Regions from separate parts of the Homo sapiens genome. Here region 1 is linked to region 2. The links come from fine-mapping of genetic effects on gene expression. A gene starts in region 2. The other region holds a variant in brackets. All regions are shown on one strand. Distances are between the middles of the regions. Region 1 overlaps UNC5C (unc-5 netrin receptor C). Region 2 holds the start of UNC5C (unc-5 netrin receptor C).

The links. PIP is the estimated chance that this variant, and not a neighbour inherited with it, causes the effect.
Region 1: its variant is the best candidate, but not a certain one, in a credible set for the expression of UNC5C in tibial nerve (GTEx, PIP 0.86).

The regions. Positions count from the first base shown.
Region 1 is chr4:95,288,563-95,293,947 of GRCh38, reverse strand. The region is part of intron 3 of UNC5C (unc-5 netrin receptor C); the gene reads left to right. Among named protein-coding and RNA genes, the nearest start is that of UNC5C, 260 kb to the left of the region's middle. The variant G/C (reference allele first, on the strand shown) is at 2,965.
Region 2 is chr4:95,546,704-95,552,088 of GRCh38, reverse strand. It overlaps UNC5C (unc-5 netrin receptor C), which reads left to right and starts at 3,116. Exons shown (of 16, transcript NM_003728.4): 1 at 3,116-3,355. The coding sequence starts at 3,232. UNC5C-AS1 (UNC5C antisense RNA 1) reads right to left here and starts at 2,941. Exons shown (of 5, transcript NR_183914.1): 1 at 2,858-2,941. RefSeq lists an enhancer at 2,545-2,674.

The DNA of each region.
Region 1 (5,385 bases), 260 kb after region 2:
ACAGATAGGCTCCAGAATAATAATACTGATAATAATGGAAGTGCTGTTTCAATCATGTATTATGTATTAGATCATTCAGTCTTTGCAAGGACTCTATGTGATGAGTGTTATTATTATTCCCATTTTATAGACAAGGAAATTGAGAGCAACGGGAGATTAAAAATCGCCTGAGGTTATACAGGTGGTATATGGAGCAGTGAGTCAGGCCAGCATCCAAGTCCATGTGTTTAACCAGTACACTGGGTACAAAGAAGGGAGGAGGAGACAAGGATTTGTAGATCAGCTGGCAATTCACAAAAACATCTTATTCTCTACATGCATAATGTTTATAACTGGTGCAATGTCTTACGTTGTAATCCCAGCACCTTGGGAGGCCAAGGTGGGAGGATCACTTGCACATAGGGGTTTGAGACCAGCCTGGGCAACATAGCAAGACCTTGTCTCTAATAAAAGCCAAAAAAAATTAACCAAGTGTGGTGGTGTGCACCTGTGATCCCAGCTGGGATACTACTGTCAGCCCAGAAGGCTGAGGCAGGAGGATCCCTTGAGCTCAGGAGGTCAAGGCTGCAGTGAGCCATGATCACACCACTGTACTCCAGCCTGGGTGACAGTGAGATCCTGTCTCAAAAAAAAAAAAAAAAAAAAAAAAAAAGCTCACTATTATTTATAATACAGAAACATAAACAGACCTTGGCTTCCTGCCTCTCTTCTTATTGCTTTGTCTGCTCTAACCACATCCATTTCCTTGTTTCCAGAATGCAATAGATTCATTCCACATATAGGCTGCTTGCAAGAACTGTTTCTTCTCACTTGAAACATTCTTACCCCAAGTCTAAAACTGGCTTACTTTCTTCTTTCATTCAGATTTATACTGAGATGTCACTCCTATAGAGGGGTCTGTCTATCCGGGCCTCAACCCTGTCACTTGCCTAATCCTAATCCTGCTTTATTGTTCTCCATAACATTTTTCTTCATCATTATTTGTTTTCTTTTGAGTTAACCATCTGCCATACCAGAATGTAAGCTTCACAAGGACAGAGACTTTCTTTTCTTCCTTGTTGTCTCCAGTGCCTAGAAGACGTCCCTTGCCTGTGGCTGCTGATAAATAAATTAAAACATAAAAAAATGAAATAAAATTGAATTAAATTGAAAGTACATGATGGGGAAAAGTGAAGATACTATTCAATGTGAATCATTTGTTCATTTAATAAAAATACTTTTTTTCCCCAAGGAATTCAAGAACATCAGGTAGCTGGACGTAATTGCCTCTACACTCTTGTACTTATTACGTTTCTGCATAGCACTTCTCACCTTCTAAACCATCATACATTTACTTATTTATTAGTTAATGGTTTGTATTCTGTACCCCCTCACCCCCTTAGAAAGTAAGGTCCACATAGGCAAAGATTTGGGTTTGGTTTTTTCACTGATTAATTCAAAACGCCTAGGGTGATTCCTGTCACAATGTAGGGACTCAAGAAATATCATAAAGGAATGAATGAATTGACATTTCTGTATTTAAGTATCTCCAGTTAAATATATATGTAATCTCCGGGAGGCTGAAGCAGGAGAATGGCGTGAACCTGGGAGGCAGAGCTTGCGGTGAGCTGAGATCGCACTACTGCACTCCAGCCTGGGTGACAGAGCAAGACTCCATCTCAAAAAAAAACAAAAAAAATTTATATATATATATATATATATATATATATATGTGTGTGTGTGTGTGTGTGTATATATATGTATATATATGTGTATATATATATGTAATCTCATGAATTATTATATTGGTTCACATGTACAGAAGTCCTGATTTGTGGCCTTATGTGTTACTTTTTTATTTTCTACCTGTCTACTCTACTTGGCATAAAACAAAATTAATTATACAATTTAACAAAAATAATGCATTTCTTTAAACAAGCATCCTGAAAGATGAAGGTCATACTATAAACAGTTCTAGTAGCCTAACACCAAATGTACTGGCAGGATTCAGCAGGCTCCCCTGTACACCAGAATAAATGGCATTTTTACTAAGGTACATTTCTGAGTTGTAGTATGATACCTTGTATAACAACCATTAAAGCCCACATTAATCCAATTATAAGTAACAGAGGCCATATTTTGAATTGGATAAGATTAAATATATACTTTAGACATTTTTAGATAAGGGAAAAATATTTAAACAATAAATTAATTAATACTCTTGTTTTATATAAATCTTGACAGTTGTATTATCAGGTTATTCCTATTTCAAGATTAAATATTATAATGTATACCTGATTGTGTCAGTCTATATTTTTTCAAACATATTTGCTTTTGTAGATGGTCAGAAGTTCCCAAGTTTCATGGATGCCCCACAAATTCTTAGGCATTTATAGCTCATATTTATTCTGAGAGGTAGACAACGAATTCATAGAACACAGTCTCATAAGTCATATTTTGGGGGAAATCATCTATACGTATGTTATAGGCAGGGCTGGTAACACACTGGACAAAAATGTGTTATTAAAGTATGTTTTATGCTGTATGAAAAGTGAAGTTTATGGCTAAAATGCTTATTTGCAAGAAAACAGCTTGTCTGCAATCATTGCATTCTTTTTTTTGTACTCTGAGAAAAGAGCCTTAGCTTTTTGGTATGTCAGTTTCCTCATCCATAAAGTTGGCATATTTCTTATTATTTATCCCTAAGACATACCTTAAAAAATACTGTGATGACATATAATCATTTTTTTTCTGAAACTAAAGATGCATTTTGAATATAAAAGAGTGGCTTGTATGGATTTTTTTTCTTCCTCTTTTCTGTAGTGGATGTCATTTGGAGTGCTAGCTGAAATATTTATTTTTTTAAAAAACTCTTTAACAAGACTATCTGAATACAAATGTGTTTGTCCTATAAATGCCCAAAAGTCAAGAAATAACGAAGAATGGCTGAAATTGTCCTCCCTTCTAAAGAGTCTTTGTTCCCTG[G/C]AATTTCTCTCATTTAAATGATCTCAGTGCAGTAAGTGATAGCCAGGGCTTGGCACGACTGAAGAAATTACCAAGCTTACCTTTCTGCTGACTTGCTGCAGATCATTCTAACCGCTCTTCCTGGTTATGAGTTATGATATTATGAAAGTGTTTGTGGTAAATTCCTAAGAGAGAACGAAAACTTTACCCCTTACAAAAGCAAAATGCGGTTATAAAACAACAGGAAAAAAATCAAAGTCGATTGTCCTTATTCTTTCTTCTTTAGTCTCTGTCCTAGTAGCCAACATTTATTATATGCTTACTGTATGCCTAACTCTGTTATAAGACCCTTGTTCATGTTAACTATCATAATCTTCATACGACATCCTATGAAGTAAGTTCTGTTATCTTCATTTTGTAAATAACAAAACAGAATCATGGAAATATTAGCTAACTTGCCCATGTCACCTGTTTAGGAAACACTGAATCTGAATTTTAAACAAACTTTTCTCTTTGCAGTCCAGTTCATTGCACACAGTTGCAAAAAACATACAACCATTCTTGACTTTTCAAACTATAGAGGGAACTGCATATAGTTGATTTTTGTTTGTTTTATTGTTTACAATATTTGAGAAGGAAAGATAAGTTAAAAAAAAAAAAACACCACCAAACTTTTTATTTCTTTAATTTGTTTTTTCAGAGACAGGGTCTTGCTTGTCATCCAAACTGGACTGCAGTGGCATGAGCATAGTTCACTGCACCCTTAACTTTCTTGGGCTCAAGCGATCCTCCCACCTCAGCCTCCCTAGTATCTGGGACTACAGATACCTACTACCATACTCTGCTAGTTTTTCTATTTTTTGTAGAGATGGGGGTTCTCACTTTGTTGCTCAGGTTGATTCCAAACTCCCTGGCCTCAAGCGATCCCCAATCTTGGCCTCTCAAAGTTCTGGGATTATAGGTATGAGCCACTGCACCGAGCTTCAATTTTTAAAATATTCTATAACCTTTATATTTACAAACCACAATAAGAGTTGCTTAGCATAATAATATTTTTCTTTATTTTTAAAAATTCCAGCAAAAATCAGATACTCTATTCCTGGAAAAGAAAACCATAGCTAACATTTCAGGGCTCTATGGCATTAAGTCAGGCATTTTTCACTTTTAATAAATGCCCAAAGCTCTGAAGGCCAATCTAGTTCTTCCAAAATATGCTTCACTGTTTGGTTCACAGCAGTTATTTCCTGTTAACAGCCAGATTTGGTGATTTAAGCATAAATTCTAGTCTGCTATGACAACATAATTAGCACTTTCCATCATTATTGGAAGAAAGATACATTTTTTTCCCTTTAAGAACACAGTATTATTACTTTGAGTGACCATGAAATCATTTGCTAGAGGAGCACTTTGAAAATATATTAAAACAGCTTTTTTTAAAAAAATATTAGAATGTGTTCAACACCATTGTTCAGTGAGTGTGTAAAAAGAATTAACTGAAAAGCACCTGAAAATATGAAAATGTGAATCATAGTACAGCAGCTGTATTTGCTTAATGCAGGGTCAGGCCTAGGTCAGAAAGTGAGTAAGCTGGCCAGCAGCAGATAACAACATGAAGCTCTTCTAAGTACAGAATTTCCACAGATCGAGGGCCTTTTTGTCAAGACCAGTTCAATTTGGGAAGCAAGAAGCTTATTTCTGATATTTGGAGTTTGGCTTCTTAGTAAAATTTAAAGAAATAAATATCAGTACAACCATCAACTCTGTGAACACTTGACAGCAATGCTGATTTAGGGGCTGGAGGAAGTGGGTATGTAAATGAGTACATTGACAGAGGACTCTTTATGTAACTGCACTGTCCTAAGTGTGCTATTTATATTACCTTTTAAAATCATCACAGTAATCCTATACAATATGTAATAGAATTATCTTCATTTTATGGATGAAGAAATGAAAACATAGCAACCTCAGTAAGTACAGAACTAGGATTAAACTATGGCAGAGCAGATCCAGGCTCCATGCTTGTAACCACCACAGCAGGATAGATAATGACCCCCAAAGGCATCAGGTCCTAATCTCTGGAATTTGTAAATATTAACCTTATGTGGAAAAAGGATCTTTGCAGATTTGGTTAAGAATCTTGAGATGGAGAGATTTTCTGACATTGCCCAGGTGGGCTTTAAAGGTCATCACAAATGCCTTGTAAGAGAAAGACAAAGGGAGATTGACACAGATTGAAGAAGAGAATGCAGTGTAACCACAGAGGTAGAGATTAGAGGGATGTAGCCACAAGCCAAGGAATGCCATCAGCCACTGGAATCTGGGAGAGGCAAGTCATGGTCTCTCCCTAAGAAACTCCAGAGGGAGCGCATAATCCTGCTGTCCCTTTGATTATGGCTCAGTGAAACTGATTTCAATTATTTGGCCTTTAGAACTACAAGTGAA
Region 2 (5,385 bases):
GATATTTTGGATGATAGATTGTTGCTATTTTAGGTAACTTGATCAGTGAATGCCTCCCTAAGCAGTGTCATTTGAACCCAGATCTCGATGACTTTAGTAAACCTATTCTCAGGAGCCTATAAAACACTATTATTTCTCTCATGAGGAAAAAATGTGATGATCAACAAAAGTAGTCAGGATGTTAATTCACAAGACAAGTTCCATCTGTACTTGTAGAGAGCAGGAAACTTGCCTGCTGTGTAAAGCTGATGTATTGCTGGTGTTTTTCCTGTCCTTTGTGTGGTGCTCTCACTCTCTTCCCCCTTTTCCACCTCATTACTCTATACCACTTCTCAAACCATTCTCCTGCCATCTTTAGGCTGAATTTCAGTATTTAACTACATTTCCTCTTTTAATCTCGTATTCTTTATTTTAAGGAACTAATTGCATGTGGTATCTGTCACTGAGTACCTCAATACCCCAAACAGGAGTAGGCGACAATTTCAACCTTCTTTAGCTGTCCTAGACTTTGAGGAGTCTTCCCCATTGAGCTTTTTTGGCAGGAAATCAGTCAATATTGATTGAGTACCAACTATATATCAGGCTCAGTTTAGGAGCTGTGGTTGAAATAATGAACAAAGGCAAAATCTCTGTCTTAAAAGAGTTAAATTCTAATTTAAGAAGACAGGCAATAAAATTGTAAATAAATAACTTTTGGATGTCGTTGATGTGATGGTGAGTATGTGTGGAGATTTCTTAGTACTTAAGCTGTTGTCCTTCTTAGTAAAATTGTACATATAAATATAAAGTATAATAATAATCCCTTGTGAAGTCATTCTCAAAATACTTGACAAGTTATTAGTGGCCTCGATACACCATAAAATATGGTAGCTGCTGGCCACATGTGACTATTTAAATTAAAATTAAATAAAAATTTCCAATTCACACTAGCCACATTGCATGCAAGTAGCCACATGTATCTCATAACTACGACCTCAGAAAGTACAGATATGAACATGTTCTTCATTGCAGAAATTTCTGCTGAACAGCACTGGTGTAGATAGCATGAGGCTAATGGGAATTTTTCATCAATGGTAAGAACAGCAGTTTACAATTTTGGCGTCAGGCATTTTACATATGTTTAACTTACATAATCCTCAAATAACCCTATGAGATAGTTCCTGTTACTAGACCCATCTTACAAATTAGGGAAGAGAGGCACCTAGCTTTAATGTTCAATATCAGTCAAGTAATAAGAAATGCTAAGAACTGAAGGCAGACAGTCTGGTGCCAGCACCCACCCTGTTGTCAAATATCTTGATGTCTTGGTATGGAGAAGATGAAGAGAGTGAAGAAGGGTTTTGTGTGGTGGACAGAGTCTCCACAGAAATAAGAAGTGGCCAGTTTTGTCAATGTCTTTGGCAAATACTACCTTTTCGGATCTCCCTGATTCATCCGAGATAGGTCTTATTGCCTAGATGGGGCTGTGCAGGCAGAATCATAGAATGTTAGAACTTAAGAGAACTTTGAAACTATCAAAATATTTCACAAATGAAGAAACTGAGACATTCACAGGTTACCTGACTTACCCAGGGTAACAGAGTAGTTATGACCACAGCCAAAATTAGACCTCATGTTTCCTGCGTGTGTGTGTGCATGCGTGTTTACACATGGCCCCCTTGGCACCAAGAGCATAAAATTCCCTGATGTATTATTAGTTTAAAGACATGCTAATCTTGGGAAGTGATTTTCTTTTTCCCAAAATGTTGTCTGTGTCTGTGTGTTGACCTTTTAATAAATTCACTTTCCTTTTGTCTAGTCTTATTTTACCCACCCAATCTTGCATCCCTCCATCATGACCACAGGGATTCACAACCCAGCTACGTAGACAATTATTTCCTGTAGAAAGGTAAACAAATTCATAGCAGCTCGAGTTCTTACACACACTATTAGAAATTTGAAAAACATGTTATAGGCTCCACCATCACTTTGAGTATCTACAAATTTTGCTTTGCATTTTTTTTTTCTAAGAGAGTTTCTCTCGGTATCGCATCACCACCCTTGTCAGCCACCAACATGCACGCAAAGAAAGCACTGTTGCAGAATGAGTTTCCGTCGAGCTTTTAGTTTCTGTTCCACTGCAAAGGGGTCATACGCGCTCAGAACATAAAGCAGTCTGACTGGCGCTGACAACCCCAGGACAGCAGCCGGCTGGGGCAGTGCAAAAGCTTCATGCCTTCTTCCCCAACCAAGAAGGACTTCAGTTCGAGCCCGCACCGGCTTCGTCAACCGCGAGACCCGAAGTCGTAGACCGAGTCCAGTCCTAGGGAATTCGGCTGAGGCTTTGCCGGCGCGGCGAAGAAGGTGGCAGGCGGCAGGCTGAGCTCCACTGGACACAGCCTAGTGGCCCGGGGCGCGCCCGCTGCACTCCCGGCGTCCAGGTCTGGCGCACCGCGGGAGGCAGGCGCGCTGCCACTCTCCGCAGCCGCTTCGTCCCCTGGTCTGTCTCGCCTCGGCTTCAGCGGGCAAACCCACAGCTGGTCTCCTGGGCGCTGATCTCCCTGCAATCCTTGCTTACATAAGGCGGGCGGGCGTGCTCCCGCCCCCGGTTACCCCCCAGAGGAGTTGTGCTGCGCCCTCTACGCCTCCTTGGCGAGCGCCTTCGCGCACCCGTGCGCCCTACTCTAGGATGTGAACCTCCTTGGCCACCCAGCAGCGACAGCCGGGACATCTCTCCGCCGGCGTGAGAACACTGAGATTGGAGACCAGAGCGCCTGACGGTGCCCAAGCTTCCTCCCTCCGTTCCCTCCTCCTCCAACTCCCCCCACTTCAACCCCCACCCCCACCCCCACCCCCGGTGTCTGTGTGTGTTCCTCACAGGCGAGGGGACCCGGAGAGCAGTCCAGACTTCGGCGTGCGGCGGAGCTGCGGCTGCTCCTGCTGCTGGGGGGAGCGGCGGAGGTGGCCGCCTTGCGCCTCCCTGGACTTCCCAAGTGGGGGCAGAGCAGTCGCTCGCGGGAGACGTCAGTTAGAAGGCATTGGGAAAGAGGGACCTTCAAACTCCTCCTCGGCGTCTCCTCTCCTCCCCCTTTTGGCCCCTGCCTTTGGAGAAAGTGGAGTGTGGCGCTTGGTTGTCGTTATTTCTTCGGACTGCTTCGCGGTGCACGGATTCAGCTTCTGCCCAGTGGGGCTTTCAGCTGTTTGCGCGTCTCTCTGTCCCCCTCCCCTCCCCCCGGCACACCTCTGTCTACGATGAGGAAAGGTCTGCGGGCGACAGCGGCCCGCTGCGGACTGGGACTGGGATACTTGCTGCAAATGCTCGTGCTACCTGCCCTGGCCCTGCTCAGCGCCAGCGGCACTGGCTCCGCCGCCCAAGGTAAGGGGGTCCGCCAAGCTCCGCGGCCACCTCCCTTAGCTTCTTCCTTCCCTCCTTCCTCTCCTCCTCCCCAGTTCTCTTGACTTCCTCAATTTGCCTCGTTGCTTTCAACTGGAAACCACTCTAAATTCCACTTTCCCAACTAGTCAAGAAGCTTTGATTATAATAATAATAATTATTATTATTATTATGTTTAATCTATCTTCTGAGATGGGCACGAATGGACCAGGGACGAACGGGGTGTGGACACGCAGCCGATCCGTCTCCATACGTGTGGGAGCCTGGAGTGTCTTGTGCCCTTTCAGCTCCGCACGCGCACGTTGTTGCATATTGCACACACGGAGGTTTGGAAAGACTCTCGGTGCGGGTGGCTGTGTGACATACCGTAGATGCACCCCGAAGCGCATGATGCGCAGAGGCTCCCCGCGCTGTGCCAAGACTGGGGTAGCAGGATCTTCACTGAGTCTCTGAGCACACTAGACCCCGAAGGGCGCTCAGCTAAGGAAATGTGTCCATTACTGTCAAGGACTCAAAAGCACCCGTCCCCCTCGCCTGCTGCTTCAGGTGCTGTGGAAATACACAGCTCACCCGAATCCGCGTACCCGGCTGGAGGCAGGCCCGGGATGTGCATGCCTCTGCACTCATACATACCCCGCTTCATGCCTGCTTCCCACCAGGGGATGTAGAAATGAAAATCCCGGAGCTCTGGGGGAACCGGCTGCTTGTTCAAACCAAATCCGAAACTCCCCGGGGTAGTCGACCAGTTTATAACTCTGACATTTTAATTTAACGCCTGTGAACTTTAACATAAGTGACCGGGGCCCTGGGCGAAGCCGGGTTGGGAAGAGTGTGGCCGGGAGTTGGGGATGGGTAAGGGAGGAGGGGAGGCTCCGGAGCTGATCGCCCGGCTCCCTTCTTGTCCGCCTAGTTTGAAGTGTTAGCAGCAGCTCCCAGCCTTCAAAGCCGGGAAAGCTGACTGGAAGGGAGCGCAGAAGAAAGAGCCAAGGCTGTCCCCTCCGGGGTCTCTTTCAGGTCACCTGGGCCCCAAAACTTCTGGCCAAGCCCAGCTCCTACTTGGGTCTCTTAGCCCACTTCAGTGGTGATAGCCGGCTCAGGCGAGGCAGCTCAGCTTTTCCTGGAAGAGGAGAGAATGAAGGAAGCTTATGCAGCATTCAGAGGCAATTCAGGGATTCTCCCTTCACTCTCGGTTACTCTTCCTTCCAAATTTGGAGAGTAAAGGGAGGCTTTACGATAGCCCCAACTCCCCAGGTGATGTTCAGACACCCTAGGGTTTCCGGACAGCATTCCCTCTGATCTTAGAGAGGCGCTGGGGGTGGGGATGGGGGTGTTGGAAGCGGAGGAGAGCGCCTAGCATAGGAGTGCGGTCTGGGTGGAGAGGTAAGTGATTAGCAAGGCTTTGTGAATTAGCGATAGCTTCTTCGGAAGTAAATTTTCCTGCTGCCCTGCTAAGTGGCCCTGCTCATAAATCCTTCCTTCCTTTCTCGCCAGATGCCTCCCATCCCTGAGGTTCTGCTCTGGTTTTCTTATGCACACCTCCAGAGTTCATCTGTCTGTCTATTTAAAAAGGAATCTCCACCGAGAATCATAGCTTGTGGATTTCCTAAAATTGATAAGAAGTTCTCAGGGCGCTAGCCAAGGGTGCTTAGAGGGGGGTGTTTGGAAGCTTAAGTGAACAACCTTATGAATAGTCGTGGAATCAACCGCGCGACTCCCTGTGGAATTCGCCTGCTGTTACTGGGCATACAAAGGACTGAGCCATGGGGGTGGGTGGCGGGAGAGGGGGACGGGGCACGGTGAGAGAACTGTTTGGGAAAAAGACAAGTTAAAGTCCCCAAAGATGCCAAACAAGAGATAGGATTCCTGCTAAGAGCTTACAATAACCAAATTAAAAAGACTGGGTAGAAAAAGGATCAATAAAGATAATCAAACAGCAGATTGTAAATGGATTAATATTGAAAGAAGAAGGGAGAAGAGATTAAAAAGAAAAGATGCTTAGGATAGACTTTTTC